Homo sapiens: one gene and its partner. The protein of the gene in region 2 purifies or fractionates together with the protein of the main gene of each other region. This does not show direct contact. Each region holds a gene or a part of one and is shown on either strand. Other genes may lie near its edges.

Region 1 (3,500 bases), on a different chromosome or scaffold from region 2:
TCTGACACTACAGTGAGACAACCCTGCTCCAAAGAAATACTTGTGACTCATGGAGACTCATGGGCTTGTCAGTGGCTGGTGACTTCTACTCAACTTGATAGTTTCTGAAGACCCATCTGTGGCAGACACAGCTATCTTCTGCCAGTTTCCACTCTTCCCTTCTGTTTTAGCAATAGTACTCTGATTTTATTTAGGACAGAAAAGTCATCAGATAAAAGAGGGCAGATCTCCTCTTCCCTTGGAGCTACGTGTAGCCATTCGACCATGTTACTTTGACCAATGATGTGTGGATGTTGTTAAGAGAGGCATCTGGGAATGTTCCTTCAAAGAACTTGGATGTCTATTTGCCCTGCCCCCATGTCTTCCTTCCTATTGCCTGGAATGTAGAAGTGATGAAATGGAACTTCAACAGCCATTTTGGAGCACAGGATAACTTTGAGAATGGAAGCTATACAGTAGGGATTACAGCACAGAAATAGGAGACCAGTTACTTCAAGATCACAGAGCCCACTACCTCCAGACTTGTTTATATGTGAAAAATAATGCTTATGTGTTATAGACACTGTTATTTCGGATATTCTGTTATATCTAATGGATTCTAATAGTAGCTGATAAAATCAATGATCATGATTAGTTGAAGACAAGTATAGTATGATGGTCCATCTTGACAACTTCTTTCTGAAAAGAGCTCCACACACAATGAGAATATTCTATTTAGAAAAAAACCAAATAAGTGAAAAAAAGACCTAAAAAATTGGTTAGCTAAGTTAAAAAAGATGCAAATACACATGAATATATACATTTATACACATACATAGTTAAAAGATGGGGTAAATACACAAAAATGTTAAGTGTTTATCTCTGAGTGGGGTAATTATGTAAGTTTTTTTGGCTTGTTTACATTTCCACATTTTCCACAACAGAAACGTGTTTACTTTTAAAATCAGCTCCCCCTGATCCCTGGAAAGAATCAGCAAAAAACCAAAAACGTCCAAATTAAACCAGCATTACTAAAATGAAACCTGGTCACAGAATTAGGTTGTCAGTTTACTTAAGTAACAAAACATGTAATTGTTTTTGTGCTGACCAGTTCTTCCATGATTAATAATTTTAAGAACTGAACAATGGAATTTAAATGCTAGCTTTTTCAAGATCTAATAAAATTATGATATTTTATTTTACAATTAAAAAAATTAACCACAACCAGCTTAGCTATTATTTTGTCACTGGAATGAAGAAGCAGATAGAAGGTCAAATCATACATGGATCTGGAATACATTTTTCTGTTAAATTTGAAACAAAATATTTGCTATTATTTGAGTTCAGCACAAAAATCTAGTAGTATCACTGAAAATCCCCAAAATATTCTGGTTTTGGCAGAATTTCAATTTCTCACTTAGACTTTCAACTCATGTTTGAGCAGAAAGAATTACATTTGATAAAATCTGTAAATGAGGAAGGCATACTTTCTCATCCAAATAATTTTACAAGTCATACCTTCCTTATTTGGAATTTGAGATAAATGCATAAACTATTGCTAGTAACTTAGAAAAATATATTGTAAACCTACTTCCTATTTAAAAAAAAATATAAGACACACACAAAAAACCTTTGACAACTGAAACTACCATGGCCAAAAAGGCTTATATACATTTTCACTCTTCAGACTTGTAGTTCCTTTTTACCTGTGGTTGCGGCGATCCTAGCTTCTATTTCAGACATGTCAGCACTCATCCTCTTGCCCTCAGAGGTTGGGGGCAAGCTCTCCACACTGCTCCCACGGGAGGCTCCCAAGCTTAAACGTCCAGATTCACTCTGTTAAAATTACAGGTCAATCTGAATTACTGAAGTTCTTTAGATTTAGCAATCTTAGGCAACCTAAAAGGAGGAAGATGGCAAATGGGATTCTGATAGATCCTGTTCTGCTCTGAAAGGAGAGGGAAGTTTGTACGAGAGGGAGCTACAGGGGTAAGGGAAAGCAAGCTGCAGATACTGTCTTTATGAAAAGGCAGTCACTAGAACTGGGAGCTAAAAGCCCCAATTATTCGTTAACCTAAATGCCTCAGGCAAAATGAATAAACTCACTCCTTGAAATATTTTTAAAAATCAACAATGGCAAAAATATAATAAATCTGAACAGCATGAAATGATAGACTTAGAACAACTCCTCTAACTGGGCAGCGCAGCCAAAATATACCCATTTTACATTTTTAACCATCAACCATTACATTTAGGGATTATTATAGATAGGGATTTAGAATTGGCAAAGGTAGCAATCATTAGAAGGAAAAACCATTTGGTAATAAATGGTAGGAGAATCTCATTACGTGTCTCTATTTGTAAGCTCTTTTGCATGTTTCAGGAAGAAAATTCAGGATTTATAAAATAGAAGATGGTAAATAATTAATTTCAGTTAGTATAATATTGTGACTACTGGTAAGGTTACCAGTTTTACTTGTAATAACATAACAAACCTGTTGCTTTGCCTGATTTTTCAACAATTTTGATTCTAAGCGCTTAATAGTATCATTTGTGGCAGGAACTTGCTCCATATTAGTGTCACTTTTGTTACTCGTATTTGTAGAAGCAATGTCCATGAATGAGCCTAGGAAAAGCAGAAACATTTATGACTAATGGCTGGAAATAATACAAATGCTTCACTTGGTATTATGTAACTTACATTCTTTTATAAACTAGCCAGGCAGGAACAGAAATAAAATAAGACTTTTCAAGCTAATGAAGATATCCAAACAAACCCATTTTAAGAGAAACTTAAGGATAGCACAAAAAAGGAACCAAGATGCCTAAATAGTCTTCTAATAGTCAAGAATAACTTAAGGTTTTTAACCTGAGCTAGTAGAAGAACTGAGGGCTATTAATTGAGATGCGGAAAGACTAAAGGAAGAGTGAGTTTGAAGGAAGTATCAGGAACTCAGTTTGGAAAATATTAAGTTTGAGTTTCTAGTAGATGTAAAGGAAATAGTTGGATATATGAGTATAGAGTTCAGGTATAAGATGGAAAACATTATGAGCCAACAGATGGTATATAAGGCCATAATAATGAATGAGGTTACCAAGGAAATGAGTGCAGACAGATAAGTGAAGAAGCCAAATGAGCAGGCCCTGGGCACTCCAACATTTCTAGGTTGGGGAGATGAGGAATAACCAGCAAAGAAAACTGAGAACAGACGGCCAGAGATGTAAGATGGAATCTAGGCTAGTATGGTATCTCGGAGGCCAACTGAAGAAAGTGCTGTCTGTAAGAAGGAGAAAGTAATGAATTAGGTCAAGTGCTACTGAGAGTCAAGATGAGAAATGAAAATGATTCCTTAAATGTAGTGATGTAGAGATAACTAGTGACCTTGACAAGAACAATTCTGAAGTACTGGCATAATACGTCTGAATGGAGTCAGCTCAAGAAAGAAGGGGAAAAGAGAAGCTAGTGAATGCAAATACAGACTACGTATGTTTTAGGAATGATCCAGTAGAAAGCTAAAACT
Region 2 (3,500 bases):
CTAAACAGCAGCACAAAGGAAAACAAAAAACAACTTAGCTTCTGTTGTCTGCGCCCTTAGTGAAGCAAAAGATTAACAAGAAAAGCTGATGTCCTCTTTGGAGGAACTAAGAGCTGAGCTACCAGACAAGCAGTAGACAAATACTGCTCTGTGACATATGGTGGGGCTCCTGTGGGAGGAGAGTTTAGCCTAGGTTTTAAGGACACCACCAAACTAGTATAGGTTCAAGAGAGCAACCAGAATGGGAGGACCTGGAGACCAGGACAAGGAAGAACAGCTGAAGGCTATCAGCTGAGATGGGGAAGGAAAGAGTTGGCAGGCATAGGGTAACTGTATATGAGGATCACTTCTGAATAGTGAAAGATGTGTAAGAGACAGCCCAGACATTATAAGCTTTAGAAGACAGAACTAGGATCAGAGGCAAAGAGTTACAAAGGAGCCAATTTCAGTCTCATATCAGGAAGGATGGGGGACATTCAATATTTATCAAGCATTTACATGTGCAAGGCACCGAACTTCATAATTAACATGTTATCTTTTTTAATTATTTTTATTTATTTATTTATTGAGATGGAGTCTCGCTCTGTCACCAGGCTGGAGTGCAGTGGCGTGATCTCGGCTCACTGCAACTTCCACCTCCCGGATTCAAGCGATTCTCGTGCCTCAGCCTCCCGAGTAGCTGGGATTACAGATGCCCGCCACCACGCCCAGCTAATTTTTGTATTTTTAGTAGAGATGAGGTTTTACCATGTTGGCGAGATGGTCTCGATCTCAACCTTGTGTTCCACCCGCCTCAGCCTCCCAAAGTGCTGGGATTACAGGCGTGAGCCACTGCACCCAGCGTGTTATCTCAATCCTCATAATGCAGTTAGGTAGAGGTATTCTCTCCACTATATCAGTAAACAAGACTAAAACATCTTGCCATGAGTCATACAGCTAACATAATGCAGGCCTAGCAAATGTTTTCTGAGTATCATAGGTGCTGAGTGCTGGCTGGGCCCCTGAAGAGAGATAAGCAAGATAGTCTTTGCCCCTTAGAAGGGGAGGGCATAGCATATAACTGCCAGAGTATGTGAGAACATGCTCAGCACAAACACTCCAATGGATATAACAGGAGTATCAAGGAGTGAGCAAATCTTTCTGTCTTTTATAGCTGGACCTGGAAGAATATTTTTTCTCTTTCTTGAAGAAGAAATGCAACTGGGCAATATAGATAGAATACGGAAAGCCTGTCTAAATTTTACAAATTCTCTCTCATGGGCATGTGTTTCTCTTATAATTAATATCTGAAAAAAAAATCTATGATACTAAGAATATCAACAAGACATCACTTCTATGAAACTAAGAAAATAGTTAACAGGTGCTGGCCCCTGCTTGAAAAGCAGAGAGTAAGCTCACCTTCCCAGACTGAAAATGGAAGAAACTTCTGCTAAAAGAGGTAGACATTTAGATTAGATGACATGTTTGAGAACATCCAAAATCAATCACTGAACACTCCCTATGGTGTCAGCCTTTATAAACAGGTTTACAAGATGGAGTCTGATCCCAGGGAAAGCAGTAAGTTCAGATTAACTTCAAGTAAAGGGGAATCAGAGGTCCCAATATGTGTGTTCCAAATGAGTTATAACTGATAACTCATCCATCATTTTCTACTTAGATGACTCATATTCATTCACTCAACAAATATTTACTAAGAGCCTAAAGTGAGCTAGCCAATGTTGGTACCAGGATTTCGGCAGTGAATAAGACAAAGTTCCTCACACTCAAACTATCCAATACTGAATTTCCTAGTCAAACCTGTTTTTTCTATTTCTTTACTTGCTCATTCACCCAGGTGCTCAAGCTAGGAAACGTGGCAACCATCCAATTCTCCTCCTCCTCCTCATTCAAATCACAAATTCGATCACCAAGCTCTATTGATTTTATGCCCTAAATTTTTCTCTAATTTGTTCACTAATATATGCACTACCACAGCTCTAGTCCAAGACACCATCTTTTGCCTGCACTATTGCCAACAGCTTTCTACTGACCTCCCCACATCTACTTAGTCCCTTTGAATCAGTTAACCTCACATACAACCTGATGTTATCACCTTGTTTCAACTTCTAAACTCTTTGATGGCTCCTTATTGTGCCCCCATCTTTAGCCATGCTGATGCATTTAAGGAATTTCCTTCAATTTCTCAAATGTACCTGAGGCTCCTTTAACCTCAGGGCCTTCGAACGGACTAGTGTCTCAGTCTAAAATTCCTCACTGTACACCCACTCCTGGTACTTAGTTAAGGCATTTATACTCACCCTTTAGAGCTCAGCCCAAATGTCTCCTCTTAGAAGCCTTCCCTTACTCCACAAACTAGGCAGGGCCTCAAAGTACTCTGTACTAGGCTAGGCTCCTCTTAACCCAACCATTAAACAACCTGTTTGCAATTAGCTGTTTAACATCAGTCTTCCCCATCCTGCTGATCGGTAATTTCCCTGAGTTTGGTAAGTACTTCTGCTGTTTCCCAATGCATACCACAATGCCTGACACAAAGGTGGGTGCTCAATGAATATCTAAAGAATAAAGTAGTGGTGAAATAAACAAAGGCAAGTGCAAATTCCTACAAAAGAGATCTAAAGGAGGCTAGGAAGCCGGGTGCGGTGGCTCATGCCTATAATCCCAGCACTTTGGGAGGCGGGTGGATCACTTGAGGTCAGGAGTTTGAGACCAGCCTGGCCAACAGGATGAAACCCCATCGCTACTAAAAATACACAAAATTAGCTGGGCATCATGGCAGGTGCCTTTAATTCCAGCTACTCGGGAGGCTGAGGCAGGAGAATCGCTTGAACCTGGGAGGCAGAGGTTGCAGTGAGCCGAGATCACACCACTGCACTAGAGCCTGGGTGACAGAGTGAGACTCTGTCTCAAAAAAACATAAAATAAAAACGAAAAAAAAAGAGGCTAGGAAAAACAGCTAGAAAGTCTGGTAGGTCCCACATCATAACAGAACACAAAAAATAGGTGGCTACCGGGTTAGGGCTCAAGATCTGTGAAGATGAGCTGATTCCAAAGACTGAAACACAAATATGTTGCAGAATAGAGCACAGGTCTTGACAGGTTTGTGGCTTTCACTTTGATCACTTTAGAAATGGAACCAGACATCCCTGCTGTGCAGAGTCTGGGTCCTTGAACCTAAGTAACCTTACATGCTGTAGAGATAACCTAACTCAAGCAATCACATCATATCTCAGACTTATTGAGTAACATGCTGTTATTTGTGCTTTGCTTCTTTTCAATTAGCTTCAAAGCTAAGTAGCCCTACCTGGTCCTAGCAACTGAAGCCAGAGGATTTGTAGTAGGTTTCAACAGAGGTTGGTTTATCTGTGTTTGGGAGGAAAAAAGCAGACACAAGACAGACTCTTTTCGGAGAAAAAATCTGAACCTGGCAACTCCTACCCGCAAACAATCTTACAGGTTTATTATTTAAAACTATTATTCAAACACTAAAAACTAGCAACTTT

The links. Proteins that work in one complex are often made in the same cells at the same time.
Region 1: the proteins of FBXW2 (region 2) and MAP3K7 purify together in Homo sapiens (affinity purification with western blotting; one study listed by BioGRID). This does not show direct contact.

Annotation. Positions count from the first base shown.
Region 1 is NC_000006.12:90,545,573-90,549,072, forward strand, and holds part of MAP3K7 (mitogen-activated protein kinase kinase kinase 7), read right to left. Parts: intron 2,606-3,500; coding exon 2,475-2,605; intron 1,816-2,474; coding exon 1,686-1,815; intron 1-1,685. UniProt on the Homo sapiens protein: Serine/threonine kinase which acts as an essential component of the MAP kinase signal transduction pathway. Plays an important role in the cascades of cellular responses evoked by changes in the environment.
Region 2 is NC_000009.12:120,765,917-120,769,416, forward strand, and holds part of FBXW2 (F-box/WD repeat-containing protein 2), read right to left. Parts: intron 1-3,500. UniProt on the Homo sapiens protein: Substrate-recognition component of the SCF (SKP1-CUL1-F-box protein)-type E3 ubiquitin ligase complex.